Homo sapiens: one gene and its partners. The protein of the gene in region 5 purifies or fractionates together with the protein of the main gene of each other region. This does not show direct contact. Each region holds a gene or a part of one and is shown on either strand. Other genes may lie near its edges.

Region 1 (4,487 bases), on a different chromosome or scaffold from region 5:
AAATACTTCAATTATCATCAATGAATCTCACTCTTAAGTTCAAAGGCAGCATTGAAAATAACATTGTGCAAGGAAAAGTAGGAGTGGAAAGTAGTAGTAGAAAACAAGAGGCAAGGCTATATTCTCATAGCTGATTATCTGTATACACATACAGACATACATACAGAGTAAATGTCATTGGTTGAAAAACAAGTACTTTTCTGTAGTCCCAGCTAATCAGGAGGCTGAGGCAGGAGGACTGCTTGAGGGCAGGAGTTTGAGGCTGTAGTGTGCTATGACTGTGCCTGTGAAGAGTCACTGTACTCTAGCCTCAGCAATAAAGCAAGACCTTGTCTCAAAAAAAAAAAAAAGAATAAAAAGAAAAAATTTTAAAAAGAAAAAAACCAAGTAATTTTATATGTTATAGAAACATATAGATCTGTTTGTCTTCTTTATTATACAGAAACGAAGAACAACTTTTGGGGAAAAGGAAGAACTAGAAAAATGAAATCATAAAAACATAAAGGAGGGGAAAACTGGTCAAGTGTGGTGGCTCATGCCGATAATCCCAGCCCTTTGAGAAGCCAAGATGGGAGGAGGAATGCTGAAGGCCAGGAGTTTGAGACCAGTCTGGGCAACAGACAGAACCTGTCTCTACAAAAAATTTAAAAATTGGTCAAGTGTGGTGACATGAACTACTCCTAGCTACTCAAGAAGCTGTAAGCAGGCAGATTACTGAGCCCAGAAGAGTTCAAGATTACAGTAAGCTATGATGTGCCACCGTACTCCAGCCTAGGCAAGAGAGAGACCCTGTCTCTTTTTTGGGTGGGAAAAAAGGAGGAAAACTAAAGATCAACAACACTAATATGAGTATATTGAAATTTCTTGCATTTTAACTACCAGTTTTTTTATCTGCTTCCACTTTAAATTTTTTTCTAGAGTTGCTCAAGAATAGATATGACTTGTTTCCTCTAGCCAAACTCTGGCCAAAAGACTGAACATAATAAAATAGGGGAGAAAAAAAGAACAACAGTACAGATACAAACAACAACAACAACAACAACAGAAAACACCTTATACATTGACCAATAACCATATCTATAGAATAAAAAGCTGTTATCATTGAACCTAGCACAAAGCCAAGCACCAGGAGGTAGAAAAAATACCAGATAATTATCCATACAAATGAGATAAAAACATGGATAATTCTTTTAGAACGGAAAAAAAAAAGTATTGTAGGTTTGGCTTTTACTGTTCTATTTATACCAATATTAAGATAAATGTAAAATATTATCACCAATGAAATATTTTCTAAGGCTGAGCCACAAAGTAGATAATCTCATATGGATAAAAAGAACTGACTATATTCATTAAAGTAGAAAATTCTTGAAGCCTTGCCAGAGTCAACAAACCAATTTAACAGCTAAAACATCTCTTAAGTCTCAGGAAAAAAACAAGAAAGGACTTCTCATTCATTTCCCATACACATAACTCTCACCTGTCAGGGCATTTTCTGAAGTGGAAAGCTGCTCACGAAGTTTATCCACATCATCTGGGTGCACCTGATCATAGAGTGTGCTGCCAAACCATTCAGACTGTGGCTGGTTCAAAACAGGAGTCACGGAGTCAGACACATACACCACCCTGCCTGTCTCACATGAGACAATAAACAGAAAGCCATCTGCTGCCTCCAAGATCAAATGTTTCAGTTCCTGCGCAAGAAAAAGAAATAGAAGTTAATATTTTACTCTGAAAAAACAAGTATTTCTATTCACAGGAAGAAGTAAGACACTTCAGGCCACATGCATCTCTCCGTAAGCAACTGCTGGTTCACACCTGATCCACAGCCACAGGTTTCCACCCTAAATGTAGTTCATCGATAAGAAAGTTTTTTCTAATACATGTTTCCTCACTTTCTCTATGTCACTATCCACCTCTTCCTCTCTATCTCAGGATTCAAGAAGAATAAAAAGGCTTGGGCTAGGCACAGCGGCTCCCGCCGGTAATCCCAGCACTTTGGGAGGTCAAAGTGGGAGGGTCACTGAGTCCAGGAGTTCAAGACCAGCCTAGGCAATGGGGCGAAACTCCATCTTTACAAACAAACAAAACAAAACAAAACAAAAACAAAAACAAAACTAGCCAGGTGTGGTGGCACACGCCTGTAGTCCCAGCTACTCCGGAGGCTGAGGTGGGAGGATCACCTGAGCCTGGGAAGCAGAGGTTGCAGTGAGCCGAGATCATACCACCACACTCCAGCCTGAGCGACAGAGCAAGAGACCCTGTCTCAAAAAAAAAAAGGCTTACCATGAACAATAATTGACTTCTTAATTCCATCCTCTCTGGTCTCTTTTTAGGATCTTGCTTGACAAATATTCCCACTTTCTCTCTTTCCCTTCAGGCCTATAAAAATGATCAAGTTTTCTCAATTCTAGATAAATCTTCCCTCAGTTTGACCCACCTCATCTCTCTTTTTCAGCAGCAAGCTTATACTAAGAATAATGTTATATTCACTGGCTTTATCCTCTTACCTTTCAATTATTTCTCAATCCCACTTCACTCTCACTCTAAACTACTGTTTTCCTGTTTGGTTTGGTTTTTGTTCTGCCAGGAACAGCATACATATATTTTTAATGAGGTTACTAATGTCCTCCTAATTACCAATTCAAGTCCCTTTTCCTGGGTCTTCATCACTTTATTCAACCTCTCTGCAGAATGTGACAATGTCGTCCATCTTATCCTTTAAATTTTATTTTTCCCTACCTTCTTCTATGAGACTGTACTCCAATTTTTGCTTCCTCTTCTGTTTCAGACTTCCTTTCCTTTGTTCAAGTCTTAAATGTAGACATTTCCAAAGTTCATCTTAAGCCCTCTTTATTAATACCATACTTTCTTCCTGGGAAACCATATTCACTCTTCCCCACTACGAAATAATAACCAAGTCTATAGCCCTAGACATGACTAACGTTTTTTCCTGAGCTTTCAGCAGACTTGAATTTCAAGTATCTGTAAAATATTTATAAATATTCTACCAGCAACTCAACATCAACATCCCAAAACCTGAATCATTATTTCCCTCTTAAAAAAAAAAACCTGCCGTGCTCTTCCAATATTCTTAACAGCATCCTCCTAAGCTAGAAGCCTCAAAATCTAACTATTCTCTCACATTCCAGTGATAATTCAGTTTTATCGATTCTACTTTCCAATGCTTTGTCACTGTCCTAGTCATCTTTTACCAAAACTAATTAAGTAGTCGCCCTGCTTTCAATCAATCCTTAAAATGCTACCAGATCTAATACATTTTTTATGTCTCCCCACTGCATAAAAATTAAAATCTAAATTCTTTAACACCTAAACATTCCATCATTAGATCCCAGCCTACCTTCCTATTATCTACCAAAAACATGCTAAACCACTTGACTTTCTTTGCATAACCCAATTATTCCACACTTCTAGGTTTTTGCTCAAGTGCTTCCCAAAATCCACAACACTACTCCCCAACTCATTTTCCATATCTGCATTTTACAGGATTCATTACAGCACTTCTATTATAGAACTAGTTCTATGTTTAATTTATTTATTTACATGTCTGTTTCCACCAGAAAACCATTTGTCTCACCATTCTTTCTATTTCTCACAGCACAACACACCTGGTTTGCCCACAAAAGGTGCATAACTGGAGTCTGTTGAATACTTGCACATGTACTGTTAGAACATATTAACTATTTCAATGTATATAGCTACAAAGTATGTAGTTTTAAGTAGACCATCCTATTTGGAAAATTCTTATTCCATTTTCTCAAACTATATTCTCTCCTTCTTTCTAATCATTTGATTAAATTGGTGGCATTAAGGGAATACTTGATTGATACTGAAGTAAATTTTTTTCTTCCTTATACCTCCTACATTTTCCAAATTTTTCTGCAATGATCATGTTATTTTAATAACCAAAACAGAACATGGCTTCCTTACCCTCAGAAGTCTTCCCTAACCATCCTCACTCAAGTCTAGCCATTCTATTCACTTTAGCCATCCCTTCAGTATGTCTATCTAGTCCCACATAAAATTACTAATTAAAAAATACAATTCCTCTCTTTATGCATTTTCCTGTTATTTTCTGTGATATCCTGCCACTCACATACTTATATTCAGATGAAGTTCCTGAAAGGCAGAAAATGTTTACGCCTTCTTTTTTTCATAGTGATCACATGTAACAGAGCACATCCCTAAGCAACAATTAGACTCTCAGTTCTTCTATCACCAAAGGTGGGACAGATTCATTCTATTACTAAAACTAGAAGCTGCTTCAGGGATAAGAAATAGATTTCTTCCATCTTCTATAACCCTAAAGGCAAGAAAGAAAATTGGTTCCATGGACATAGTCATTTCCTCTGTGATTCCACTGTTCTTCTTCCATCCTATATGCTATATTCATGAGTCAAGTTCTCAAATATTAATACTTATTAGCTTATTAAATAGTTTTCACAACTCTTCTCTACTTCTCATTGTCC
Region 2 (4,487 bases), on a different chromosome or scaffold from region 5:
TCCAAAGCCAACACTGTGACCCCTCTAGATTTACCATTCTTCAGGGCATTCATTTTGCGTATTCAACTCACTCACTGCTTCAATTAATTATTTTCATACCCATATTCACCCATATATACATGAGTGAAAAAGCACAAACAAATATATATATATATAATGAGACAATTTTTTAAAGTATTTCTGTAAGTTACCTTAAAATGTCTTCAGAACAACCTAAGAACAATTATCTACTCAGTCCTATGTGGTCTAGACAGTCAAAGGCAAACAATGGATCCAAAATGATAAATGGTTAGACAGCTAATCACAGCATCTCTCTTCTAGGTGTTACCAAATTTTGGAAACTTAATGGAAACAGCCAGAGTAAATGACTGGGGCTAAAAGTATAATCTAAAGACTAAAATAAAGCTAAATATACCCTATCTAGTCTATATCAGCTTAAAGATAACAAAATGTCTCATCACACTTTTAATCGTATCTTTAGAGGGTGAATATTGTTGGGGAAAAAAGATGCTTACTCAGAGACAACAAGATAGACAATATCCTGTCTTCAAGAGAGCTTATCATAGTAAAAGAAAATTATAAATTTTTATAATTGCTTTTCACAAAATAAACAGGGTTATATAGAAGAGAATAAAATTTCAGCAAGAAGAAAAAGGAAAGAGGACTTTACCTAGGGTAGTTATGAAAGACTTGTCTTATATGGCATTTGAGCTGAGACTCAAGGAAAAGGAAGTTGGCCAAGTGATAAGCCAGGACAAGGGCTTCCCAAGCATACAGAGAATAACACTAAGAACAAAGTGTAAGAAGGAAAGAGGGAAAGAAAAGAAAAGACAGGAAAGAGAGAAAGATGGGAAAGGAGAAAAAGGAGAAAGAGGAGAAGGAAAGAAGGGATGGAGGAAAGAAGGAAGGAAGGAAGGGAGGGAAGAAGTGAAGGAAGGGAGGGAGGGAGGAAGGAAGAGAGAGAGACAGAAAGAAAGAAAGAGAGAGAGACAGAAAGAAACAAAAGAGAGAGAGAGAAAGAAAGAAAGAAAGGAAGGAAGGAAGGAAGGAAGGAAGGAAGGAAGGAAGGAAGGGAGGAAGGAAGGAAAGAAGAAGAGAAGAGAAGAGAAAGAAAAGAAAATGGCAGGGCACAGTGGCTCACGCCTGTAATCCCAGCACTTTGGGAGGCCGAGGAGGGCGGATCACAAGGTCAGGAGATTGAGACCATCGTGGCCAACACGGTGAAACCCTGTCTCTACTAAAAGTATAAAAAATTAGCCGGGCATGGTGGCAGGCGCCTGTAGTCCCAGCTACTTGGGAGGCTGAGGCAGGAGAATGGCGTGAACCCAGGAGGCAGAGCTTGCAGTGAGCCGAGATCACGCCACTGCACTCCAGCCTGGGCAACAGTGCAAGACTCTGTCTAAAAAGAAGAAAAAGAAAGAAAGGAAGGAAGGAGAAAAGAAAAGAAGGAAGAAAAGAAAGAAAAGAGAGAGAGAAAGAGAGAGAGAGAAAGCAAGCAAGTGGGAGGAAGGGAGGGAGGGAGGGGGGAGGGGAGGGGGTGGGGGCAGGGTGGAGGCGGGGTGGGGCGGGGGAGGGCAGGGCAGGGCAGGGCAGAATTTGGCACGGAAATTCTCTGATAACCGAAAGAAATCAGTAGTACATCTAGAGTGTAACAATCATCAAGTACTGAGAAAATTGAATGAGATGAGGCTAGAGAGACAGGGAAGGGCAGGCCATATAAATTCTTATACGTCCACAGTGAGGAGTTTGATTTTTTTTTCTTTTGTAGTTGTATTTCCAAATGCAATTAGGAACTTCTGAAGGGATTTAAACAGCAAAGTTATATAATCTGATTTAACATGTTAAAATACTCATTCTGGCTCCTGCATGGAGAATACATTATAATGGAACAACAGTAGGTACAGGCAGATTAATTAGGAGACAAGAAATGATGGTGAGATGAAAAGACCCAGGTTATAGTTTAGATACAGGAACAAAAGAACTTGCTGATGAGCTGGCATGGGACTTGAGGAAAAGGAAGGAATCAAGAAAAACTCACAGGTTATTCAAATAAGCAAATGGACCAAGAAGGAGCCAATTACGGAACAGGAAGGGTAGGAGGCTGCATTAAGTTTTAGTTTGAACATGTAGATTTATGACGTACAACAATAGGCCGGGTGCAGTGGCTCATGCCTGTAATCCCAGCATTTTGGGAGGCCGAGGCGGATGGACTGCTTGAGGTTAGGAGTTCAAGACCAGCCTGACCAACATGGGGAACCCCATCTCTACTAAAAATACAAAAATTTGCTGGGTGTGGTGGCAGGAACCTGTAATCCCAGCTACTTGGGAGGCTGAGGCAGGAGAATTGCTTGAACCCAGGAGGGGGAGGCTGCAGTGACCTGAGATTGTGCACTGCACTCCAGCCTGGGTGACAGAGTGAGACTGTCTTTAAAAAAAAAAAAAAAAAAAAAAAAAAAGATGTACAACAATAACAAAAACATACTGTCAAAATAGCAGTCAGACATCAGGCATAAGGGTCTGGAATTCAGGGTAGAAGATCAGATTGCTGATATATATATTTGTGAGTCATGAATTTACAGGAGATATTAAAAGCTATGAGGAACTGACACAATCACCCAGAGAAAGAGTGTATGTAAAGAGAAGAGAAGAGAGCCCAAACTAAGGGGTTTGATTATAATATTCAGAAGGAGATAGAACAAGAAACACGAACAACAGTTACTGAAAACCCACCAGAATTAATAAGAGTAAATAGGCAAATATGATATCATAGATACCAAGAAAGGAAAGTGTTTCAAGAAGGAGTGACAGCCTATGTTAAATGCAACCGGGTCGAAAAATCTAGTAAGGTACTAACAGAGAAATATCCTTTAAACTGGTGAATGTCACTAGTGACTTTGATTAAAAGTTTCAGAGGAAAAGGGGGTTGAAAAGCAGATGGGGGTTGGTTAATAAATAAATGAAGGATGGCAAGAAAATGGAGAGAGCATCTATCAACAACTCTTCTGAGGATTCTCATTACGAAAGCAGCAGAGAAATAAGGCAATAGCTGAAGGGGAATGTGAGATAATTAAGAGAAAATTTTTAAAGAAAGGAGATAATAAGAGCATGTTAAGGCCAAAAGAAACAATTTGGCAAAAAAAGGCAATGATAATGCAAGAGAAGGGGCGAAATCTTTGAGAAGCTGGAAAGGGATAGCAACTACATTGACTAGCTTTTGATAGGAGCTTTCTGCTTCTATCACAATGTGAGTACAGATGTTGGAAAGCTGGGAAATTATTGACAGTAGGAAAACGAGTACTTTTCATTGTGAATGAAAGGTTAGAATCTGGAAGTGGGGCGGGGATGAAGGGAAGTATTAAAGTTTGAGAGACATGAAAGTGTAAAATAGTCATTTTGTACAGCTGGAGAGCAACAGTGTGAGGCTGCTCTGATGCACAGTGTTGAGCACCCATTGAAATTTGTGGTCATAACTTTCTTCATTATCATTCAGTGATTCCACTGTAGACTAAGAGAAGGCAGACAATTAGGTTCAACCAGAGATGGAGCGTAGCAAATTTTCATATTCCCATTGTCCGTTTCTTTGATATCAGTAAAAATGAGGGAGGACATGTAAAGGGATAAACATTTACATAAAAAGGTATCCACAGCAAGGCAAGCATAGACAGAAGTATACTTTATCATTTTCTCTATCTCTATGCAGGGAAATAATAGAAATCATGGTCCTAAGCTGACATTTCCATCTACTACATTCACCCAATGGACAATTCCCAATATTCACAAACACATTTGGACTTAGGCTATGGCAAATGCAAAAGAGATTGGACAAAAAACAAAAACAGAAACAAATTAAGTCCTTACTCCTGAAACGTTGAACTCCAGAATAATGAAAAAGCTGTTATCAGAACAACTACAGTCATAACCTTCAGATGTTACATCTAACACCAAATCATTTTTCTCAATAGTGATAATGTCTTGATAACATGGAAATATTCTAATTATCTATAGCTTAGTCAACCAAAATTCTCTCAATAATCTCCCAGTTAAAAATATTTCCTTACTTCCTATAAATAATTTATGAGTAAAAGTACTGCATAATGTTTCAATAATCATCACATGACCACCAAAGATATTTTTTCTTCTTCAATAATTCAAATGATTGTCACATTTAATACTTACATTAAATATTGAAAGGAATTTAGCAATTTGAAATGCAGTAATTAAAATGCATTAGATAGCTTTAAAAAATAAAGTTCCAAATACTTTACTCATAAATATATTTAAGAAACAACTAGAATTAGTTGAGATTCAGTGGAAGCTGAATGTAAGCTAGAGTCTTCTTGCTAAGTTTTCCTAAAAACTTATAATTGATCAATATGTTCAAGAATATCACTTTAAAAATTCTTGCTTTTCCCAATTTTACCTGCTTTGAAAAACAAACTTTTAACTACTTCTGCTTTTAATTCCCAAATCTTCCAAAATATTTTATT
Region 3 (4,487 bases), on a different chromosome or scaffold from region 5:
GAGGCTTCTGAGTGAGAACAGACAGCAGCCTCAGGGAGAAGAAGAGGGTCTTTTGGGCAAATGACTAGACAACCAACAACTGCAGAGCACTTGACAGTTTATTTTTATTTTTGAAACGGAGTTTCACTCTTGCCCAGGCTAGAGTGCAGGGGCACGATCTCGGCTCACTGCAACCGCTGCCTCCCGGATTCAAGTGATTCTCTTAGCCTCCTGAGTAGCTGGGATTATAGGTGCCTGCCACCACACCCAGCTAGTTTTTGTATTTTTAGTAGAGACGGGGTTTCACCATGTTGGCCAGGCTGGTCTTGAACTCCTGACCTCAGGTGATCCACTGCCTCAGCCTCCCAAAGTGCTGGGATTATAGGCATGAGCCACCATGACCGGCCAACACTTGAGAGTTTATAAGTCACTTTATCTTATGTGGTCCTTTCACCAACACCATGCAGCTGGCATTACTGGACCGATTTTTCAGATGGGGAAACTGAGGCTTATAGGGCAAGGGGCTGTTGGTCTTATGACTAATAAAAAGTGGCACCAGGACTTGTGGCTCTCCTCACTGGAGAGATCCTGGCATCCACTGGGGCTGGAATGGACAGCCTCCAGTGTTCCTGCAGCTCGGAGATGCCAAGATTCAGACAGAGCCAGGAGTCAGAGCAGAGGGGCTGAGAACCCAGGGGCCAGGAGACCCTTCCTGGGTACACATAGCAGAGAGGCTAAGGGCCTCTAATTCACTAGAGCCATCATTCTCCAGCTGTGTGAGCTTGAGCAATTTATCTAACCTCTCTGTGACTCAGATTTCTTGACTGTAAAATGGGGATGACAGTAATAGGTAGGCATGGCTGGGCACAGTGGTTCACACTTGTAATCCCAGCACTTTGGGAGGCCCAGGCAGGCAGATGGCTTGAGCCCAGGAGTTCGAGACCAACCTGGGCAACATGACAAGACCCCGTGTCTACAAAAAATACAAAAAGTTAGCCAGGCATGGTGGCGCGTGCCTGTAGTCCCAGCTACTGGGGAGACTGAGGTGGGAGGATTGCTTGAGCCCAGGAGGCAGAGGCTGTAGTGAGCCGAGATCACACCACTGCACTCCAACCTGGGTGACAGAACAAGACCCTGTCTCAAAACAAACAAAAACATACAAAAAATTAGATGGGTGTGGTGGTGCCTGCTTGTAATCCCAGCTACTCAGGAGGCTGAGGTGAGAGGATCACCTAAGCCTGGGAGATCAAGCTTGAGGTGACCATAATTGCACCACTGCACTCTAGCCAGGGTGATAGAGTGAGACCCTGTTTCAAAAACAATAAAAAGACAATAACAGTGAGGCTTAGATGAGTTAGTCAGGGCCTGGCATAGGGTAAGTGCCCACTACATGCTAGCTGGCATTATGCTTGGGTGGGATAAGGAGCCCATTAGGTATTCTGGGAGGTGGCTGGGTAGCAGGGGTGCTGGACTGAACTGGAAGATGGAGTTGACTCTGAAGGGGAAGTGCCAGAGCAATTCCTCACCCCTGTCCTGCTGCAGTGAATGATGTGCGCCAGGCTGCCCGCAGCGCCGCCAGCTACATGCTCTTCGACCCCAAGGACAGCGTCATGCAGCAGAACCTGGTGTATTACCGGTTCCACCGGGCTCGCTGGGGCCTGGAAGAGGAGGACTTCCAGCCCCGGGAGGTGGGCACTGCTTTCTGGGGCACTTGCTGGATATGCACTTTGTAAAAAATGAACTCCTGGCGGCCGGGCGCGGTGGCTCATGCCTGTAATCCCAGCACTTTGGGAGGCTGAGGCGGGTGGATCACGAGGTCAGGAGATCAGGACCATCCTGGCTAACACGGTGAAACCCCGTCTCTACTGAAAAGAAAAAAAAATTAGCCAGGCATGGTGGTGGACGCCTGTAGTACCAACTACTCGGGAAGCTGAGGCAGGAGAATGGCGTGAACCTGGGAGGCAGAGCTTGCAGTGAGCGGAGATCGCGCCACTGCACTCCAGTCTGGGTGACAGAGCGAGACTCCGTCTCAAAAGAAAAATAAATAAATAAATAATAAAAAATAAACTCCTGGCTTCCATGGAAGGCAGGATGGGAAATGGAAAGAAAGAATATGAGTTGAGGTTAGAGTCCTGGCTTCAGAGCCCAGCCCCACTGCTGTGTGGTCCTGGGAAGACCATGGCCCTTTCCTAATCTATTGCCTCACCTGCAAAATGGCAGTGATACTGCCACCTCACCAGCAGTGTCCAGACGAGGGAGGTATGAAGGTACACATCCACTCCTACCTGCTCCCCTCCCTACCTTCATTACCCTCACTGCTGACCTTTGTCCCTCTTTCCCAGGAACACCCTAGGTAACCAATGGAGGAAATCTGTTGGAGTTGAGGGCCAGGCTGGCAAATATGGGGCACATGGTGCCACTCCTGCCTTCCTTGTCAGTGGCAGACATTGCTAATCGATTGAGGGACTCTTTGTCACCAAACTCTCAGAATCCTTAACCCAGTGTTCCAAGCAGCCACGATGATCTGATGAGCTTGTGAGCTGATACCTATTCTCTGATCCTTGAGCTAGAAGAGGGCCAGTGGGCCCAGATCCTAGGAGCCCTGGCTTCTTGCCATCTGGCAACAGGGTATGGCTCACCCCCCACCCCGTCCTTCCCTCCTTCCAGGAGGCCATGCTCTACCACAACCAGACCGCCGAGCTGCGGGAGCTGCTGGAGTTCACCCACATGTACCTGCAGTCAGATGATGAGGTGAGTGCCTCCTGCTTTCCAGGATTGGGCTGTGATGGGGACACCTTGGACCTTTTCCTGGGGCCACCAGTGTGCCAGAATTCAGCCCCAGCCCCTGGTGGTCAGCTGTCGTGAAGAAGAGAGGTTTGCCTGTTCCTTGTCTAGACTGTCCGTTCCTTCCCCAGCCTTAGTATTCTCATGTCCTCCTTTTGTACATGTCTCAATCCTGTTCCTCCCAGGCCCAGCTCACATGGTGCCTCCTCCAGGAAGCCCTTGCTGCATGCCCTGGCTCTTTGTTCTGGGCTAGCAGTGCCCACTCTGACCTGTGTGCCTCCCTGGCCACCTGTGGCCTGGACCTGGGTGATTGCAGCCCTCGTCCATCTCAGCCCTGGGCCCCTTCTCCAGCCAGTATCCAGGAGAACCGCACTGCAGGACACAGGGCCACATTATTCCCTGTTCTCCCACATCCTGCACAGAGCCTGGGCTCAGAAACTGAGTTTGAATGAACCAGTGAATGAATGAATGCAGGACCTCAGGACAGAAGGACCGTATTGTATTACATTGATTTATTTTATTTATTTATTTATTTTTTTTTTTTGAGATGGAGTCTCGCTCTGCCGCCCAGGCTGGAGTGCAGTGGTGTCATCTCAGCTCACTGAAACCTCTGCCTCCCGGGTTCACACGATGCTCCTGCCTCAGCCTCCGGAGTAGCTGGGATTACAGGCGTGCACCACCACGCCTGGCTAATTTTTGTATTTTTAGTAGAGACAGTGTTTCACCGTGTTGGTCAGGCTGGTCTCGACCTCGTGACCTCATGATCTATCTGCCTCGGTCTCCCAAAGTGCTGGGATTACAGGCGTGAGCAGCCGCACCCGGCCCTATTAACATTGATTTCAAGTGAGGGTTTGACAGCCTTAATTTCTCTGAGGTGTTGCTGCTCAGTGCTCATTTATGTATCCTCTCCTTTGTTCATGCCCCCACGCCCCCACCCATCCAACCCCAGAGGAGGAGGGCAGAATCTACACCGTCAGCACCCAGGATGAGGAACTAGCCAGACCTGGCTCCATTACTTACCAGTTGGGTGGCCTCCAAACAAGTGTCAGGCAACCTCTCAAGCTTCTGTTTCTTCATCCATTGAATGGGGAGAATCATGCCCATCTCACATTGTTGTGGTGAGAATAACACAAGATCTGGCCGGGTATGGTAGCTCATGCCTGTAATCCCAGCAATTTGGGAGGCCGAGGCAGAGGGATCACCTGAGATCAGGAGTTCAAGACGAGCCTGGCCAACATAGTGAAACCCTGTCTCTATTAAAAATACAAAAATTACTCAGGTGTGGTGGTGGGCACCTGTAATCCCAGCTACTGGGGAGGCTGAGGCAGGAGAATGGCTTGAACCAGAGGCAGAGGTTGCAGTGAGCCGAGATCGCGCCACTGTACTCCAGCCTGGGTGACAGATTGAGACTCTGTCTCGAAAAAAGAGAAAGAATTAAGTGAGATCAAGTATGTTTTTTTGTTTGTTTGTTTTTGAGACAGAGTCTCGCTCTGTCGCCCATGCTGGAGTGCAGTGGCGTGATCTCAGCTCACTGCAAGCTCCGCCTCCCAGGTTCTCACGCCATTCTCCTACCTCAGCCTCCCAAGTAGCTGGGACCACAGGCGCCTGCCACCACGCCCGGCTAATTTTTTTTGTATATTTAGTAGAGATGGGGTTTCACTATGTTACCCCGTATGGTCTCGATCTCCTGACCTTGTGATCCACCCACCTCGGCCTCCCAGAGT
Region 4 (4,487 bases), on a different chromosome or scaffold from region 5:
TCTGCCCCAAGGATCAATGTGCTCTAAGTATTCATCCCCCAACCCCTGACCTTGTCGCTCCCTCTCCAGTGGGCAATCTGTCCCAGGCTATAGAAAATGTCCTGAGTGTCCTGCTCTTCTACCCGGAGGATGAGGCTGCCAAGAGGGCTCTGAACCAGTACCAGGCCCAGCTGGGAGAGCCGAGACCTGGCCTCGGACCCAGAGAGGTAATCCCCTCTCCACGCTCACCTGGGAGGTAGCCCCAAATCAAACAAATAGACCTGAGAAGTAACCTGGACCCCCACCCCCCGCTGGCCTCTTACCCGAGCACTCTAGTCACCCAAAGGACTCCAAGTCCAGCATCTGACTTCCGTCTCCACTCCCTGCTCCCCACGGCAGCCTGGAGTTCCGATTCCAGCCCTCAGCCCCGTCTCTCTTGCCTTTACTTCACTCCTGCCTGCCACCAGCCCCCAAACTCATGCATACACACACCCACACACTCACACACACTCCCACCCCCTACACCCTTTCCAGTTTAAGTCCAGATGCTCTGAAGCTGCTGAGGGGGAACGTTGAACAGAGGAACCGGGGGGCATGGTGCCAGGTTCAAGGAGCATGGAGCACCCAGGCAGTGCCCTAGAGCCGGCGCTTCCCTGCCTTCCTCCAGCTACCCCTCACTGCTCATCATCTCACCCTCAGGACATCCAGCGCTTCATCCTCCGATCCCTGGGGGAGAAGAGGCAGCTCTACTATGCCATGGAGCACCTGGGGACCAGCTTCAAGGATCCTGTGAGTCACTCCACTTCTGCCCATCTCACCCCTCCGCACTCCCAGGAGGGATGGCACTTTGGTTTGCAACAGAGTTTTCCATTTTTCCACCATGAGGCTTGGAGAAGAGTCTGCCATCCCAGTTTTACAGGGACGGAGACAGTGTGCCTGTAGTTAGGGCGGCTTTGGGGTCACGCAGGCCTAAATGTCAGTCCTCCTCTGCCCCAAACATCTCTGAACTTCAACTTGCCTCTGCCTCAATTTCCTTACCTGTAAGTTGGAATAATCACATCTGTTTCACAGGGCTGTTGAAACCACATCATTTGATAACAAAATATAGAAAGCTCTGTTACTGCTGCTTTTATTTCTCTTCTTGTAGTTATGAGAGGAAACTGCGGGGCGGAGGTTATCTATGGCTAGGACTAGGGCATCAAGCAGGCGTTCTCAGTCTTCCTGGCGCTACTGATATTTTGGATCTGACATTTTGGATAATTCTTTGTTGGGGCAGAGGGCAGGGCCTGTCCTATGCCTTGGAGGGTGTTCAGCAGCTTCCCTGGTCTCTACCCAGTAGAGATCAATAGCACATTGACAGCCCCTGAGTCATGGCAATCAATGTTTCCACACTTTGCCTAATGACCCCTGGGGGCAGAAGTGTCCTGCTTGAGAACGACTGGCTAAATGTGTGAACTCTGAAGCTAGTTTTTTTTATTTTTATTTTTATTTTTGGAGACAGAGTCTCACTCTGTCACCCAGGCTGGAGGGCAATGGTGCGATCTTGGCTCACTGCAACCTCCACCTCCCAGGTTCAAGCGATTCTTCTGCCTCAGCCTCCTGAGTAGCTGGGATTACAGGTGCCCGCCATCTTGCCTGGCTAATTTTTGTATTTTTAGTAGAGATGGGGTTTCACCATGTTGGCCAGGCTGGTCTTGAACTCCTGACTTCAGGTGATCCACCCGCCTCGGACCCCCAAAGATGCTGGGATTACAGGCGTGAGCCACCGGAACCCGGCCTGCAGCTAGTTTAAAACCTAACGCTGCTTTGGGAGGCCGAGGCAGGTGGATCACCAGATCAGGAGTTCAAGACCAGCCTGGCCAACATAGTGAAACCCTGTCTCTACTAAAAATACAAAAAATTAGCTGGGCGTGGTGGCGGGCGCCTATAATCCCAGCTACCTGGGATGCTGAGGCAGGAGAATCGCTTGAACCCAGGAGGCGGAGGTTGCAGTGAGCTGAGATCGCGCCATAGCACTCCAGCCTGGGCGACAGTGTGAGACTCCGTCTCAAAAAAACAAAAAACAAAAAACAACAACAAAAAACAACTAACCCTGTCATTTGTAGCTGTGTGATCTTGAGCATGTTACTTTACTTCTCTGTGTCTCAGGGCTCTCAATTACAAAATGAGCACTTTAATATTCTGTTTCATGAGACTGTTGTGAACTTTAAAGGATAAATTCCATTTCCATGAATAAAGCTCTTAGAATAGCCCCTAGCAGATAGTAAGTGCTATATGAGTTATAGTTGTACTTGTTGTTACAGTTTGATCCACTGCCCAGGGCTCCTGACATTGAGTCCCGGGCTTTTCCTACCTCCGTCTTCCTCTCTGGAAACAGAAGAAACTTAATGAGATATTTCAGCTCTAATGTCAGGGATTCCAGGGGCTGACCTTGGTGGGTGATGATGCTTTTCTGGACTGTCGCAGGACCCCTGGACCCCTGCAGCTCTCATCCCTGAGGCACTTAGAGAAAAGCTCAGGTAGGATATGCCCCATGGTGGGAGGGGCTTGGCCCGAGCTGGGAGGCTGGGTCTGGACTGTCCTGGGCACCCACTGAGCGCATCTCTCACCCCTGAGAGAGGATCAAGAGAAGAGGCCTTGGGACCATGAGCCCGTGAAGCCAAAGCCCTTGACCTACTGGAAGGGTGAGTTCCTGGGAGGGAGAAGGCAGGAGCCTGGAGGGTCTGGGGGCTGCCAGCTACTGCTCTGCCTGCCCTTAGGGGATGCTCAGCCCCCTCTGCTCTGTCTTTTCCCTGGCAGATGTCCTTCTCCTGGAGGGTGTGACCTTGACCCAGGATTCCAGGCAGCTGAATGGGTCGGAGCGGGCGGTGTTGGATGGGCTGCTCACCCCAGCCGAGTGTGGGGTGCTGCTGCAGCTGGCTAAGGTAGGAAGACCTGCAAGCTCATCAGCTCGTTCAAGACTCTTGGATACAATCACCTGTTCCCTTGCTCTTGGCCTGCCCCCTTCATTCTGCCTGTCCTGATTATCCAACCGGGACTGTGCTTACCACTGCCTCTCAGCTGTGGATAAGTTCCGTCTCGTCTTAATTTAGCTGACATAGGTGGATGTTCTTTACAAATGAATTTTGCTAGAAATTGATAGGAAGAACAAAACAAAAAACATGAAGGCATAAAAATGGATGAGTGTGCAGGTAAGGATTGCTTGGTTAGCCAAGAGTTTAGTTACTGGCTTGGCTGATGGCTCAGCAGACACGCAGGCCTTTCTTTCCCTCCTAGTTTAGGTTGAATGACTCATACTCACCAGGTTGAGGCTACCATTTTATGAAGCTTCAACCCTTATCTTAGGTTAGTGCTCATTCAGTAATATACTCACTGAGTAGCTGCTATACACTAGAAACTGCTAGGTTCTAGGGAGAGGAAGATGATTATAGACTCTGCCCTTTGGGAGCTCAAGTGTAGAGGTGGAAACAGACAAGGAAATACATAATATAAGCAGGTGGTAAGTTTGGTAAAAGAAGTATGTTTTTGGGCTGGGTATGGTGGCTCATGCCTGTAATCCCAGCAATTTGGGAGGCCGAGGTGGGTGGATCACCTGAGGCTGGGAGTTCGAGACCAGCCTGACCAACATGGAGAAACCCTGTCTCTAATAAAAATACAAAAAAGTTAGCCAGGCGTGGTGGCACATGCCTGTAATCCCAGGTACTCGGGAGGCTGAGGCAGGAGAAGCGCCTGAACCCGGGAGGCGGAGGTTGTGGTGAGCTGATCTCGTGCCATTGCACTCCAGCGTGGGCAACAAGAGCGAAACTCCATCTCAAAAAAAAAAAAAAAAAGTATGTCAAATAGAAGCACTGAAATGCAGTTATAGAAGGCTTGCTGGAGAGGTGGTATTTGAGCTCAGTCTTAAGGATGAGTTAGTCAGGCGATTGGGGGTGGAATCAGTCTAAGAGGGAGAAGAGCATGGTGCATTCTGGGAACTGCAGTCAAGCACAGGGGTGAGAGCAGGGCCAGCTCCATAGTCATTACCTGTGTGATCTTGGGCAATTTATTTTAACATCTCTGAGCCTAATTTGCTCATCTATAAAATGAGGATAATAATAGTGTTTTTGTCATAGTGTCGTTGTGAGGATTAAATGAGTTAGCACATGATAAAGCTCTTAGAACACAGAATCATCACTGGCTGGGTGTGGTGGCTCATGCCTGTAATCCCAGCACTTTAGGAGGTCAAGGCAGGTGGATCACTTGAGGTCAGGAGTTCAAGACCAGCCTGGCCAACATGGTGAAACCCGGTCTTTACTAAAAATACAAAAAAATTAGTGGGCATTGTGGCAGGTGCCAGTAATCCCAACTACTGGGGAGGCTGAGGCAGGAGAATCGCTTGGACCCAGGAGGCGGAGGTCGCAGTGAGCCGAGATCGCACCATTGCAGTCCAGCCTGGGCAACAAGATCAAAACTCCGCCTCGAAAAATAAATTTTTTTAAATAATTAATTAATTAATTAATTAATTAAAA
Region 5 (4,173 bases):
GGATCAGGGCAAAAAGAATAACTTGTAACAGTTCACACCCTTTCCTTTTCCTGCCTTCTAAGGAAGGGTCTGGTCTGTCTGCCAGCTCAATCCTTCCATGGGCTGCGCTGGTAATGGGTTGAGAAGAGAACTGGAAAAAGCCTCTTGATTTCAACACGTTGATCTTAGTAAAATCCCTGCCTAGTGCATATAAGCCCTGCCCACGTGTACAAGGATTTTATTGCAGCATTGCTTATAATAGCAAAAAATAGGAACAACTAAATGCCCATCCAAAGGCAAATGATAAAAAACATTACGGTCCATCTATACTGTGGATTTCTATGCAGGAGTTAAAAAAAAAAGTAGAGTTACGTGTGCTCTATGAAACCTTCTCTAACATACACTAAGAGGAAAGAGCAGGTGGCCAGACCCTTTGTGTTAAAAGGAAGGCAGGCCGGGCAAGGTGGCTCGCGTCTATAATCCCAGCACTTTGGGAAGCTGGGACTGGAGGATTGCTTGAGGCCAGGAGTTTGAGACCAGCCTGGGCAATGTAGCCAGACAGTCTCTACAAAAAATACAAAAATTAGTCAGGCATGGTGGCATATGCCTTTAGCCCCATCTACTTGGGAGGCTGAGGTGACAGGATCCCTTGAGCCCACGAGTTCCAGGTTACAGTGAGCTATGATTGTGTCACTGCATTCCAGCCTGGGCAACAGAGTAAGACCTTGTCTCTAAAAAATAAAAATTAGAAAAACAAAAGGAATGGAATCCACAATGCCAATTTTTTTTTTTTTTTTTTGAGACGGAATCTTGCTCTGTCGCCCAGGCTGGAGCACAGTGGCGCGATCTCCGCTCACTGCAAGCTCCGCCTCCCAGGTTCACACCATTCTTCTGCCTCAGCCTCCTGAGTAGCTGGGACTACAGGCACCTGCCACCACGCCCGGCTAATTTTTTGTATATTTAGTAGAGATGGGGTTTCACCGTGTTAGCCAGGATGGTCTTAAACTCCTGACCTCGTGATCTGCCCACCTCGGCCTCCCAAAGTGCTGGGATTACAGGCGTGAGCCACCACACCTGGCCCACAGTGCTAAATATTTCTACACCCATTTAAACGCATAGAAGAGTGCTTGGCCTATAGCAAACATTCCTAAATACTAGCTGGCATTCCCTGCAGAACAATTCCCCCAGTTGTGTTTTCCTTTAGAAGGCTTTTTGATGTTTCATACTCCAATGTTTCATAAAATGCACATTTCTCTCAATCCAACATTTTTGGCTACTGATTGCATAAAATCAATTTAGTTTATGTCCCCTCAACTCAATACAACATTTTAAGCAAAACCTATATGGATAATGACTTGAGTTCACTCGACACAAGGTTGTTAGAACCATATGAACTGGGTCAAGGAAGTAAAGTTTTAGGCATTTTACATCCTAACAAGTTACTTTGTTTCTTATACATTTGTATGTAGGCATTTCACTGTGTTTTAGAGTTTTGAGTTAATCTGTAATGCATCTGAATTTTTCCTATTTTACATAATTCGGAAATAGGTTTCCAAATTGCATTTTGTTACTGAACACTTGATTTTCAGGAACAGAGTGCTTATGTTAAGTGCCTGACAATGCCTGGTATTATTAAATACATATGTAAATATATAGAAAAAGGCCAGGAAAGATACATACCTAACCAATTAATAGTGGTTACCTCTGGAGGGTGAGGGAAGGATGAGAAGGGGTAGTAAGTAAGGAGGACTTTTGCTTTATGTGTATTGTTTGAATATATTACAATGAGACTGTATTTGTATATTACTCATATAATTAAAAATAAACAAAAAGAATGGGAAAAAATAAAACTCAGAAAAGTCACAAAGCTATTTCTTGAAAAAATGAAAATAAACAAAAGGTGGGAAAAGGGGCCAAGAGAAGAGGAATAGAGACAGAATCTTTTTTTTTTTTTTTTTAAAGATAGAGTCTCACGCTGTTACGCAGGCTGGAGTGCAGTGGCGCGATCATAGCTCACTGTAACCTCAAACTCTTGGGCTTGAGTAATCTTCCTGCCTCAGCCTCCTGAGTAGCTGGGACTTCAGGCACACACCACCACACTTAGTTAATTTTAAAATTTTTTGTAGAAATGGTGTCTCCCTATGTTGCCCAGTCTGGTCTCAAACTCCTGGCCTCCCAGTACTCTTGCCTTGGCCTCCCAAACTGCTGAAATTACAGGCATGAGCCACCACGCAGCCTCCAAGTCATTTTGACTTGGGGTTTTTGGCGGGAGACAAATAGATAAAAAAGCTTACCAGGAGGTCCTACCATGTATTATATAATGTGCTTTCCTCTTCTTTACCTTTTTTGAGAGACTTTGGGAAAAGCTGACTTTACTCTTGAAAGACTTTTCTGGAGGTGAATTTGTATGTGTGGTGATGGCGGGTGGTTGGATGTTATCCTGAATTGGCCCCAGGGTGACAAGCTTTGTTTGAGTTACATGCGCTGGGACTCTCCCAACACTGCCTTCCTTGGTGTGGTGGCTTCCTTCTCTGCAGAGACTCAACACACAGCAGAACAGATGGCCAAAGGCAGCCCCAGTACATGGTAGAACTTCCTGGTAAGCTTTATCTATTTGGGGAAGTCAACAGCAGAGACTCTGTCCCTCAGGATCCATAGGCAAATCTCAGGGAAAACTCTAGCTGGCCTGCTTGGAGCACATGTCCAGACCTGAGTCTGCCGCCGTGGTCAGGAAATTGGATATCATGATACCAGTGCCCAGCACGCTGGAAGACCCACCCCAGTTAAAGCTATGATAGTTACTTTTATACTAATCTCCTGGGGAGGAGGTACCTTTGAAGGAATTAGTTTGGTGTGGTAGGAAAAGACCTGGATTTGGAGTCAGCTATCTGCATGCTATGTGAGCTCAATAAGTCAATTACAGGGTGCCTAACATTTATTGTATGTCTATGCTGAGACTGGTCCTTCATACATTGTTTTATTTCATCTTTACCACAACCTTGTGAGACAGGTGCTATTATTATCCATATTTTAGAGATGAGGAAACCATGGTTTGGAGAGAAGTTAAGTAGTTTGTCAAAATCAGTGTCCAGGTTTGTTTCCAAAGTTCACGTTCTTGCGAGGATGACATTTTGCTATCAACTGAATCACTCTGACTCTCAGTATCCTCATCTGTAACATGGGGAAAATAAGAATCCCTCCGGCACACGATATGGATGGTCAGATGGGCAACATGTTCAAAAGTGCTTTGTCAATATTAAAATGCCATACAAATAAAAATTATTATATTTCTCTACTGCTTAAAATGTAGGCTTAGGGATGCTGCTGACACTGAAAAGTGCTTGGTTGCTGGGGTGAAAGTTTGGAGATATAAGGAATGTCACAACGGAAAGGTCTGTAGAGTATATCCATTCTGCTCGCCGTCTGCCTGGCATCCCTTCCTTTGGGGAGTTGCCCTTCACCATTTCATTTCATACGGTCCTAGCGGGGCTGTCAGTCACAATGACTGACTGCCCCCACCACCCACTCACACACACGCAGGGGTGGGTCCATGAGCCTGCCCTGCAAATGGAGGCACCTCACCTCCTTGGTCAAGGGAATTGGTCCAGGATACGCATGTGGCCAAGGAGAATTGGCTGTTCTGAGATTTGCTCTGTGGATGAAGCCAGGAAGATGTGGGCCGGAGCCCAGCAGTGCTATTTCAGAACTTCTAGCCTTTGTGAGGATACAACAAACACAGAGAGAAGCAGAGCCGTGACAATGATATTTGAGCTCCTGGACTCAGCTATTCCTGGAGCTTGGCTCTTGGACTTCTCAGGCTTTTTTTTTTTTTTTTTTTTTTTTTTTTTTTTTGAGACACTGTCCTGCTCTGTTTCCCAGGCTGGAGTGCAGTGGCACGATCTCAACTCACTCCAACCTCTGCCTCCTGGGTTCAAGCAATTCTCCTACCTCAGCCTCCAGAGTAGCTGGGATTACAGGCATACACCACCAGACCTGGCTAATTTTTTGTATTTTTAGTAGAGATGGGGTTTTGCCATGTTGGCCTGGCTAGTCTTGAACTCCTGGCCTCAAGTGATCTGTCCACCTCGGCCTCCCAAGTGCTGAGATTACAGGTGTGAGCCACCGCGCCTGGCCTGATGTCTCAGTTTTATGGGCTAATACATTCCATTTGGGACTATAAATTGAGTTTCTGTC
Region 6 (3,911 bases), on a different chromosome or scaffold from region 5:
TGTCTGTCACTGTGCTGCACCCTTTGAGGAGCAAGGAGAGGCTGAGCGGCACGTTCTGCGGTCAGCAGATCCCCTACCTTGAACATGCCCATTTCCCAGCCTGCCCCACCCTGCCCTGTGTGTCTCTTGCTACAACCACCACTCTCCTGCCCTGCTCCCCACCCCAGGCTACAGTTCTTCGTGGTGCTCACCAGCCAGCGAGAGCTCTTCCCCAGGCTCACTGCTGACATGCGCCGCTTCCGGAAGCCACCCAGACTGCCCCCTGAGCCAGAGGCTCCTGGGAGTTCAGCTGGCAGCCCTGGGGAGGCCTCAGGGCTTATTCTAGCGCCTGGACCGGCTCCTCTGTTCCCACCACTGGCTGCAGAGGTGGGCATGGCACGAGCACGGCTGGCTCAGCTGGTGCGGCTGGCTGGAGGGCACTGCCGTCGGGACACCCTTTGGAAGCGCCTCTTCTTGCTGGAGCCACCGGGGCCTGATCGACTGCGGCTAGGGGGGCGCCTGGCCCTGGCAGAGCTGGAGGAACTCCTAGAAGCAGTCCATGCCAAATCCATTGGGGACATCGACCCCCAGCTGGTAAGGAACTGTGGGCTCCCGAAAGAGCTGGGATAGGTGCCAGGAATTCCACTGGCAGCCAGGGCAGAGGGCACAGGAATCTGAGGTGACTGGCACAGAAGACTCAGGCCTGTGGCTCCTCCCTCAGGACTGCTTCCTATCCATGACGGTCTCCTGGTACCAGAGCCTGATCAAAGTTCTCCTAAGCCGCTTCCCCCAGAGCTGTCGCCATTTCCAAAGCCCAGACTTGGGAACTCAGTACCTGGTAAGTCCCCTTGAGCTTCCTCTGAAAAGGGAAACACAGCAGAAATCCTCACCAAACAGATGTGCCCCTCAGCCTGACCAAACAAGCTCTGCTCTGGAGGGAGGCCTAGACAGAACGGGACTACACAGATACATGTAAAACCCTTCCAGTACCGGGCATCGAGCTACAGCATGTGATTCTCTGAGCAGCTCTGCCCTCAAAGACTCACCAAGAATACAAGCCTTGGCTTGAGATCCTGAGGGCCAGGCTCTGGAACTGACAACCCAAGGAGCTGTCAGAACTTTGTCAGTAGGCTGGAGCCCCAGAAAGGACCCCTTGGACTTTGAAGCCTTGTTACTTAAAGTGTGGTCCACAGACCAGCAGCCGCAGCACCTGGGAGCTTGCTGAAATGCAGGCTCTCCGGCCACATTTCAGACTGTTGACTCGGGATCTGCAGGTTGACAGTCTCCCCAGGTGATTTGTGTGCACACTGAGGCGTGAAAGCACTGCTGTAAAGGACAGGTAGAGAGAACTGTGGTGGTGGACACGAGCACAGGGCATTAAGGAGCCCACAGAGATGGGCCCAGCCAGAGCTGAGGTTCAAGAGAGGAGGCATTACAAGAGAAGACTTCAAGTGAGAAAGTAGGAGGTGGAGCCAGGTGAGGGGTCCTGCAGCACAGTGCTTGTGCAGAGGATTCATTTCAGGGTGCAGGAAGGGTCTCCCAGAGAAGCCAAGGTCAGTTAGGATGAGGCTGCAGTAGTGTCGGCGGTTGTGAATGGAGGCAGGTGCTCCTGCGGGTGGTGGGAAGGCTGGAGCAGGAGTGGGTTTTGGGGAAGGGTGACAAGCCCAGCTTGGGGCAAGCTGAGTCTGGGGTCCATAGGCCCTTCACTGTCTGCAAGGTCTGTGGGCATCAGGGATTCGAGCTCAGGAGAGTCCTAGGCAGCAGCTCTGTGAACAGGCGGTAACTGAAGCCTTGGGAGAGCAAATCATCCCGGGATGGATCACCAAGCAGAGCGTTAGGGAGCAGATGGACATAAGGGGACGACAAGACAATCCCAGGGGTGGTCAGAGAGGAGTCCCAGGACAGGAGGCAAGGAGGTTGTGCCAGGGGTACAGCACTCTCTGTTGATTGGCTTCAGTGTGCCAGGCTCTGTGTGGGGCCTCCAGGATCAACTGTTACCCCTCATTCTGATGCAGCTCAGACAGGCTGACCAGCAAGCCAGCGAGGATGAGGACTGAGGCTCAATTTGGAGACACGGTCCTATGTGACCTCAGGGTGCAGGCGGGGTGAGGTGTGGAGATGGAAGTAGGCCTCTCCTCATCCTCCCTTCACCTCAGGATGCCCTGTGGGAGGGTCTGTAGGGTCTGTGTCCCCTCCTCATCTTTCACTGCAGGTTGTGCTGAATCAGAAGTTCACTGACTGCTTTGTGCTAGTGTTTCTGGACTCCCACTTAGGAAAGACGGTAAGAACGAGTGGGGGGCTTTGTGTCAGCCTCATGGGAGGCCGTACCCCAAATGCTCCACCTCGGAGCCTGCTGAGGTTGGGGTGCCCACCCTTTCTGAGCCCTGCCTCCTATCCCCACCCATGCCCTCCTCTCACCAGTGCATCCCCACCGTGTTCCCCACAGTCTCTGACAGTGGTTTTCCGAGAGCCCTTCCCAGTACAGCCCCAGGACAGCGAGAGCCCCCCTGCCCAACTGGTCTCCACCTACCACCACCTGGAGTCTGTCATCAACACAGCCTGTTTCACCCTCTGGACCCGCCTCCTCTGAGGGAGTGGACTGGACCACTGAATGTCACTGTTCCTTGAATCATGGGCCTACCAGATTGCCTGCCAGAGGCAGGACTGACCAGCCCTTCTGGGCCCCAGGGCAAGCCAGACACTGAGTGACACCAAAGGCTTTGTAACTATGTCTTGAGGGTCTGCTGCCCCAGCCTGGCAGCAGGAACCGCCCTCCCCAAACACCCACAGCCACTGACCCATCCAGGACTCCAGAGAGTCAGGTCAACCCCGAGGACCCCTTGGGCCCTTCTGGGGTACTCCTTTCGGCCCCCCTGGTAGAGTCTCGGGAGTTCACACAGGGTGGCAAACACCCCCTAGAGCTCCTCTGCCTGAATCCTGCCCCCTAGCCTTTGACCACTGTCAGCCACCTGTGTCCCTTGAGCCTTCGGGTCTTCACTTCCCACTTGGACATCACTGCTGGACATTCCCATCGAGATGACACCTGGGTTCCAATCCCAGCTCTGCCTTTGAAGCACTTGTGGCCACCGTCAAGTCCCTTTGCTCTCGGACCCTGGGTTTCTCATCCTTTAATGAGGTGGGTTCAGAAGCTCTCCCATCTTCACAGCAACCCTGGCACTGGCTTCTCAATGGGAGGGAAGCAGCAGAGAAACTGAAGTGTTAGACACTATGTGTCCCACCACCCCATTACAGAGACATATGACAATGTTCAGCAGGTCATCTTTAATGCAGAGGAGGAGATGGGATGTCACTCGCTGTCTGGAGGCACGTGGGTGGTGTGCGGGCCCTCACTGGCCAGCCTCTGGGTGGCCCCGCCTATCCCAGTATGAACGTAGCCAACTCAAGCCCTCTACTGTGTCTCCTGCAGGGAGAGGGAGGCCTCGGCACCTCAGCCCACAAGGAGAAAACAGCCCCTGTCCGGGTCCCTCCAGAGCTCCCTTCCCCAGGGCCACGCCTCACCTCGAGGCTGATACTCACAGCCCACGAAGCCTTTGTAGCCTTCATCTTCCAGCAGTTGAAACAGATAGGGGAAATTCAGCTCTCCGGGGCTGCTGGGCTCCCCTCGGCCTGGGACCTGTGCCACCTGCACATGCCCTGGGGACAGATGTGGACAAATGTGGGGTCCAGGCTCCTGCCAGGGCCTGAAGGACAGATGTGGGGATTGAAAGGGTGGGAGGGCAAAGGAAGGTCCTCTCACCAACAATGGGCAGGAACTCCCGGATGTTTCCTGTCAGGTTCCCATCCATGATCTGCCAGTGGAATATGTCCTAGGGAAGAGGATACTACATTCCGAGACCCCGCAGGCCCCGCCCTCCTTCCGATCTGCGAAGTACCCCCTTCCACTTACCATTTGTAATTGGAGGTTGGGTCTT
Region 7 (4,487 bases), on a different chromosome or scaffold from region 5:
CATTATTTATTTTACTTAGAAAGATTCTCAGAGGTGTCATTCTCGGCTATCCCCATTCCTGCTGTCTGTTCCCACCCAGCCTCCTTAGGGAACCACAGTTTCTGGTTTATCCTTCCTGTATTTATTTTTTTACAAAAATATGAAGATACGTATACATTTTATTTCTACCTTTTTCTTCTATAAAAGGTAACATGGTATATATACTCTTACACTTTTTAATTTTTTTTATTAACAACATATCTTGGAAATCTAGACCTTCCTCATTCATTTTTGTTTTGTTTTGAGATTGCCAAAAGCAAGGGCTGATGTCCCTCATCTACACCAGAGTCCTCTTGTTGAATACCGGACATTAATCATCTTAGTTTCTGTGTAGGATGAACTTAACATTTTTCACAGTTAAAAAAAAATGGTACAAAACAAAAATTTTAAACAACTTTAAATAAGCTTAACCGTCCCTTAATAATAGTATATGAGATTGTTCATCTTGGCAATTTCTGATTGTGATGACTTTCCTGCTTTAGTTACTTCACTATTGATGTAGTTTAGTTTAGAGGTTGTATTAGGGGTCTCTAAAGGGTCAGAACTGATAGGATAGATGAATATATGAAGGGGAGTTTATTAGGAGAATGACTCACATGATCACAAGGTAAAATCCCACAATAGGCTGGGGAGCAAGGAAGCCAGCCTGAGTCCCAAAATCTCAAAAGTAGGGAAGCCACCAGTGTAGGCTTCAGTCCGTGGCTGAAGGCCTAAGAGCTCCTGGTGAACCACTGGTGTAGGTCCAAGAGTCCAAAAGCTGAAGAACTTGGAGTCTGATGTTTGAGGGCAGGAAGCATCCAGCATGAGAGAAAGGTGGAGGCGGAAGACTCAGCCAGTCTGCTCTTTACATGCCTGCCTTTATGCTGGCAGCTGATTAGATGCTGCCCACCCAGACTGAGGGTGGGTCTGCCTCTCCCAGCCCGCTGACTCAAATGTTAATCTCCTTTGGCAACACCCTCACAGACACATCCAGGAACAATAATTTTCATCCTTCAATCCAGTCAGATTGACAAAGTATTAACCATCACAGAGGTTAAGAGCACAGACAGGCAGGCAGCCTGGGTTGGAGTCCTGACTTGGCCACTTACTAGCTATGTCACCTTGGGCTTGGTTTCCTCATTGTAAATAAGGGTAGATGTGAGGTTTTGGTGAATTTGTACGTGTAAGGCATTGAACGTTGTCTGTCACATGGTACGTACTATGGAAAAGGTTATTATGCTTGTATTAAAAAATACAGGAGTATGAATTTATTACTTCAGTGTCTATAGATTCTATAAAGTCAAGATCTAAAAGATTAGCTATTTGTTTTGGTCGTCTCACAAATCTATCATCTGCAGATTTATTTAGCAAGTCTGAAAAATTCATACTTTCATTGCTTGTCTACTCAGTCTTCGAGGGATCATGTAAGAATTAAATTTAGGAAAAACAATTAGCAAGATAAGAGATGAATGGATTCTCCACACGCTGAATAATAGATACCAGATGGCTTTTGAGAAAAAGACCCCAGTTTTTGAGATCTGCTGTCAAGTATTCGATGTCCCGGCCAATAGTTCAAGGAGTACCTGTGTTTTGAAATAGCCTTATGAGTGACATCCTACATTCCATTTATTGAAGTGCTGAATAACAAATATTATTGTTTCTGGCCAGGCATGGTGGCTCACGCCTGTAATCCCAGCACTTTGAGAGGCCAAGGCAGGCAGATCACTTGAGGTCAGGAGTTCGAGACCAGCCTGGCCAACATAGTGAAACCCTGTCTCTACTAAAAATACAAAAATTAGCCAGGCATGGTGGTGTGCACCTGTAATCTCAGCTACTCAGGAGGCTGAGGCATGAGAATCGCTTGAACCCAGGAGGCAGAGGTTGCAATGAGCCAAGATCGCATCACTGCACTCCAGCCTGGGCAACACAGTGAGACTCCATCCAAAAAAAAAATAAAAATAAAAATACCGTTCTTGAAAAATTGAATAAATGCATTATTTCATGATATGTCTTAACAAGCCTGAAGTCTGTGTGATGTAACACTTTAGAATGAGAGGCCACTTTCTGTTCTTTAAGGAGATGTACAGGTGGAAATATTCTTGGCTTTAACTCTAATTTTGTTTTCCAAGATGCACATTATTTTTGCATCTGTGCAATTGATGTCTCTCTAAATTGAAACTTTATCACCTCTCCACAGGGATGCCTCTGCACTGCTGGATCCGATGGAGTGCACAGACACAGCAGAGGAGCAGAGAGTACACAGTCCTCCTGCTTCATTAGTGCCGAGAATTCATGTGATCTTAGCCCAGAAGTTGCAACACATCAACCCATTATTGCCTGCCTGCCTTAACAAAGAGGAGAGCAAAACCTGTAAGTGTAAGTGTTACAGCCTAGTCAACTATCGACTGTTAGCCTCAGTGTGTCCAGAGCTGCCTGTAACGTGCTCATAGTGGAATTGAGAGTCAGGTCTTCATTCCTCACAATAAGTGTTTTCAGTAATCTCTCTCTCGTTGCCCCATTTTTCTCTTACATTAATTCTCTTCACTGAAATGAGGACAAAAGAGTATACAAGGCTGGGTGCAGTGGCTCACGCCTGTAATCTTAGCACTTTAGGAGGCCAAGGTGGGTGGATCACCTGAGGTCAGGAGTTCGAGACTAGCCTGGCCAATATAGTGAAACCCTGGCTCTACTAAAAATACAAAATTAGCCAGGTGTGGTGGCGTGTGCCTGTAATCCCAGCTACTCGGGAGGCTGAGGCAGGAGAACTGGAGGCAGAGGTTGCGGTGAGCTGAGATGGCACCATTGCACTCCAGGCTAGGCAAAAAGAGCAAAACTTGGTCTCAAAAAAAAAAAAAAGGAGGATGCAAACTGCCTTATTTTTAAGATTAGCATCACTTACTGACGGATATGTTAAGCTTTACCTACTGTCGACTGAATTGTGCTTTGCTCACGTAGTTATTTTTTTACCTAAGACACTTGAGAGGAACTGGAGTGTGTGTCCTGACTCAGGTCTTCCTTTCTCCTTCAGTTGTTTCAAGTTTCATGTCCGAATTGTCTCCAGTCAGAGCAGAACTTCTTGGGTTCCTTACTCATGCCCTTCTGGGGGATAGTTTGGCTGCTGAATACCTTATATTACATCTCATCTCCACAGTGTAAGTGCTGTATCCTGGTGGGAATTAGGGGAGTTTGGTGTGTGTGGAAGTGGAAGAGCGGGAAGATTGCTGGTGTCATTTGTGTGTTTTCCTTATTGGGCTTCATCACATGGTTTTTATCTGTCCAGTGTTAACTGTTATACCAAATCACAGACAAATTCCTTTTCTCACAGTTCACATTTAGCATTTTGATTATGTCCCCTTAAATTTTAGAGCCAAAATCAGATAAAGCAGTGGTCCCCAACCTTTTAGGCACCAAGGACCCATTTCATGGAAGACCATTTTTCCATGGACCGGAGTGGGGATGGTTTCAGTATGAAACCGTTCCACCTCAGAACATCAGGCATTAGTTAGATTCTCATAGGGAACACACAGATGTGCAGTTCACAATAGGGTTCGCGCTCCTGTGAGAGTCTGATGCCACTGCTGATCTGACAGGAGGCGGAACTCAGGCGGTAATGCCCACTCATCCACCCCTCACCTCCTATGTTGTGGCCCGGTTCCTAACAGGCCATGAACCAGTACTGGTCCACGGCCTGGGCGTTGGGGACCCCTGAGATAAAGGACCTGGCTGATGAGTAAAATGAGCTGTTTTATCCCTTTTGCATTCTGAACGCTCTGTTTATACATCCCAAGGCGCCCACGTCATGTGCACGTTTAACGTGGACATTGACACTAGCACCGCATCCCTTGACTCCACTGTATTTCTTTGTTTCTCATTTTAAAACTAGTGTGGGCCTTTGACAAGTTCCAAGAACATAAGGAGGAAAATGCACATCATCTGTAATTTCACCACTTAGAACCTCCGTTAACCTTTAGGTACATGTTCATTGGTTTTTGTTTACATATGTATACATCCTTGCATAGGTCTTAGTTACACTCTAAGCACAGATGCGTGTCTTGTTTTCAGCAGTTGATATATATTAAACATTTTCCCATCATAATGCTTCATGAACTTTGTAGTGGCTGCAAAGTATTTCACTATGCAGTTGTACCATACTGTAACCATTTCCCTAAATGTTAGCTTTTCCTAGCTTTTCTCTATTATAAAGTTGCAGGAAACATCTTTGTGCTGTAAATCTTATCTTTTCTCAAATCAGTCTGTGACAGTAGTACATAATGGTTGAGAGCACAGGCTCTGGAACCAAACTACCCGGATTCATATCCCAGCTCTGTCAGCTTCCATTTAGATGAACATGTTGCTTATTATCATCTCTGTGCCTCGGATTTCTCATCTGTGAAGCAAAGACAACAGCACCTACCGCTGAATGGTTAGGGGTTAAATGAGGAAGCATTTACATACTCAGAACGGTCTTT

What was found.
Region 1: the proteins of C1QTNF2 (region 5) and ARNT purify together in Homo sapiens (affinity purification with mass spectrometry; 3 studies listed by BioGRID and IntAct, with this or other methods). This does not show direct contact.
Region 2: the proteins of C1QTNF2 (region 5) and DCAF6 purify together in Homo sapiens (affinity purification with mass spectrometry; 3 studies listed by BioGRID and IntAct, with this or other methods). This does not show direct contact.
Region 3: the proteins of C1QTNF2 (region 5) and P3H4 purify together in Homo sapiens (affinity purification with mass spectrometry; 3 studies listed by BioGRID and IntAct, with this or other methods). This does not show direct contact.
Region 4: the proteins of C1QTNF2 (region 5) and P3H3 purify together in Homo sapiens (affinity purification with mass spectrometry; 3 studies listed by BioGRID and IntAct, with this or other methods). This does not show direct contact.
Region 6: the proteins of C1QTNF2 (region 5) and SZT2 purify together in Homo sapiens (affinity purification with mass spectrometry; 3 studies listed by BioGRID and IntAct, with this or other methods). This does not show direct contact.
Region 7: the proteins of C1QTNF2 (region 5) and MCMBP purify together in Homo sapiens (affinity purification with mass spectrometry; 3 studies listed by BioGRID and IntAct, with this or other methods). This does not show direct contact.

What each region holds. Positions count from the first base shown.
Region 1 is NC_000001.11:150,834,803-150,839,289, forward strand, and holds part of ARNT (aryl hydrocarbon receptor nuclear translocator), read right to left. Parts: intron 1,692-4,487; coding exon 1,478-1,691; intron 1-1,477. UniProt on the Homo sapiens protein: Required for activity of the AHR. Upon ligand binding, AHR translocates into the nucleus, where it heterodimerizes with ARNT and induces transcription by binding to xenobiotic response elements (XRE).
Region 2 is NC_000001.11:168,005,932-168,010,418, reverse strand, and holds part of DCAF6 (DDB1- and CUL4-associated factor 6), read right to left. Parts: intron 1-4,487. UniProt on the Homo sapiens protein: Ligand-dependent coactivator of nuclear receptors. Enhance transcriptional activity of the nuclear receptors NR3C1 and AR. May function as a substrate receptor for CUL4-DDB1 E3 ubiquitin-protein ligase complex.
Region 3 is NC_000017.11:41,805,039-41,809,525, reverse strand, and holds part of P3H4 (endoplasmic reticulum protein SC65 precursor), read left to right. Parts: intron 1-1,521; coding exon 1,522-1,667; intron 1,668-2,646; coding exon 2,647-2,730; intron 2,731-4,487. UniProt on the Homo sapiens protein: Part of a complex composed of PLOD1, P3H3 and P3H4 that catalyzes hydroxylation of lysine residues in collagen alpha chains and is required for normal assembly and cross-linking of collagen fibrils.
Region 4 is NC_000012.12:6,831,147-6,835,633, forward strand, and holds part of P3H3 (prolyl 3-hydroxylase 3 precursor), read left to right. Parts: intron 1-69; coding exon 70-206; intron 207-678; coding exon 679-768; intron 769-2,445; coding exon 2,446-2,498; intron 2,499-2,595; coding exon 2,596-2,663; intron 2,664-2,778; coding exon 2,779-2,903; intron 2,904-4,487. UniProt on the Homo sapiens protein: Part of a complex composed of PLOD1, P3H3 and P3H4 that catalyzes hydroxylation of lysine residues in collagen alpha chains and is required for normal assembly and cross-linkling of collagen fibrils.
Region 5 is NC_000005.10:160,349,991-160,354,163, forward strand, and holds part of C1QTNF2 (complement C1q tumor necrosis factor-related protein 2 isoform 1 precursor), read right to left. Parts: intron 1-4,173. UniProt on the Homo sapiens protein: Involved in the regulation of lipid metabolism in adipose tissue and liver.
Region 6 is NC_000001.11:43,447,912-43,451,822, forward strand, and holds part of SZT2 (KICSTOR complex protein SZT2), read left to right. Parts: coding exon 1-60; intron 61-167; coding exon 168-573; exon of another isoform or gene 574-700; coding exon 701-817; intron 818-2,191; coding exon 2,192-2,260; intron 2,261-2,425; coding exon 2,426-2,569; 3' UTR 2,570-3,107; coding exon of another isoform or gene 3,108-3,160; 3' UTR 3,161-3,326; coding exon of another isoform or gene 3,327-3,400; 3' UTR 3,401-3,498; coding exon of another isoform or gene 3,499-3,633; 3' UTR 3,634-3,736; coding exon of another isoform or gene 3,737-3,806; 3' UTR 3,807-3,886; coding exon of another isoform or gene 3,887-3,911. Other genes in the region: HYI (putative hydroxypyruvate isomerase), read right to left, coding at 3,327-3,400, 3,499-3,633, 3,737-3,806, 3,887-3,911.
Region 7 is NC_000010.11:119,841,155-119,845,641, reverse strand, and holds part of MCMBP (mini-chromosome maintenance complex-binding protein), read left to right. Parts: intron 1-2,215; coding exon 2,216-2,388; coding exon of another isoform or gene 2,389-2,394; intron 2,395-3,046; coding exon 3,047-3,170; intron 3,171-4,487. UniProt on the Homo sapiens protein: Associated component of the MCM complex that acts as a regulator of DNA replication.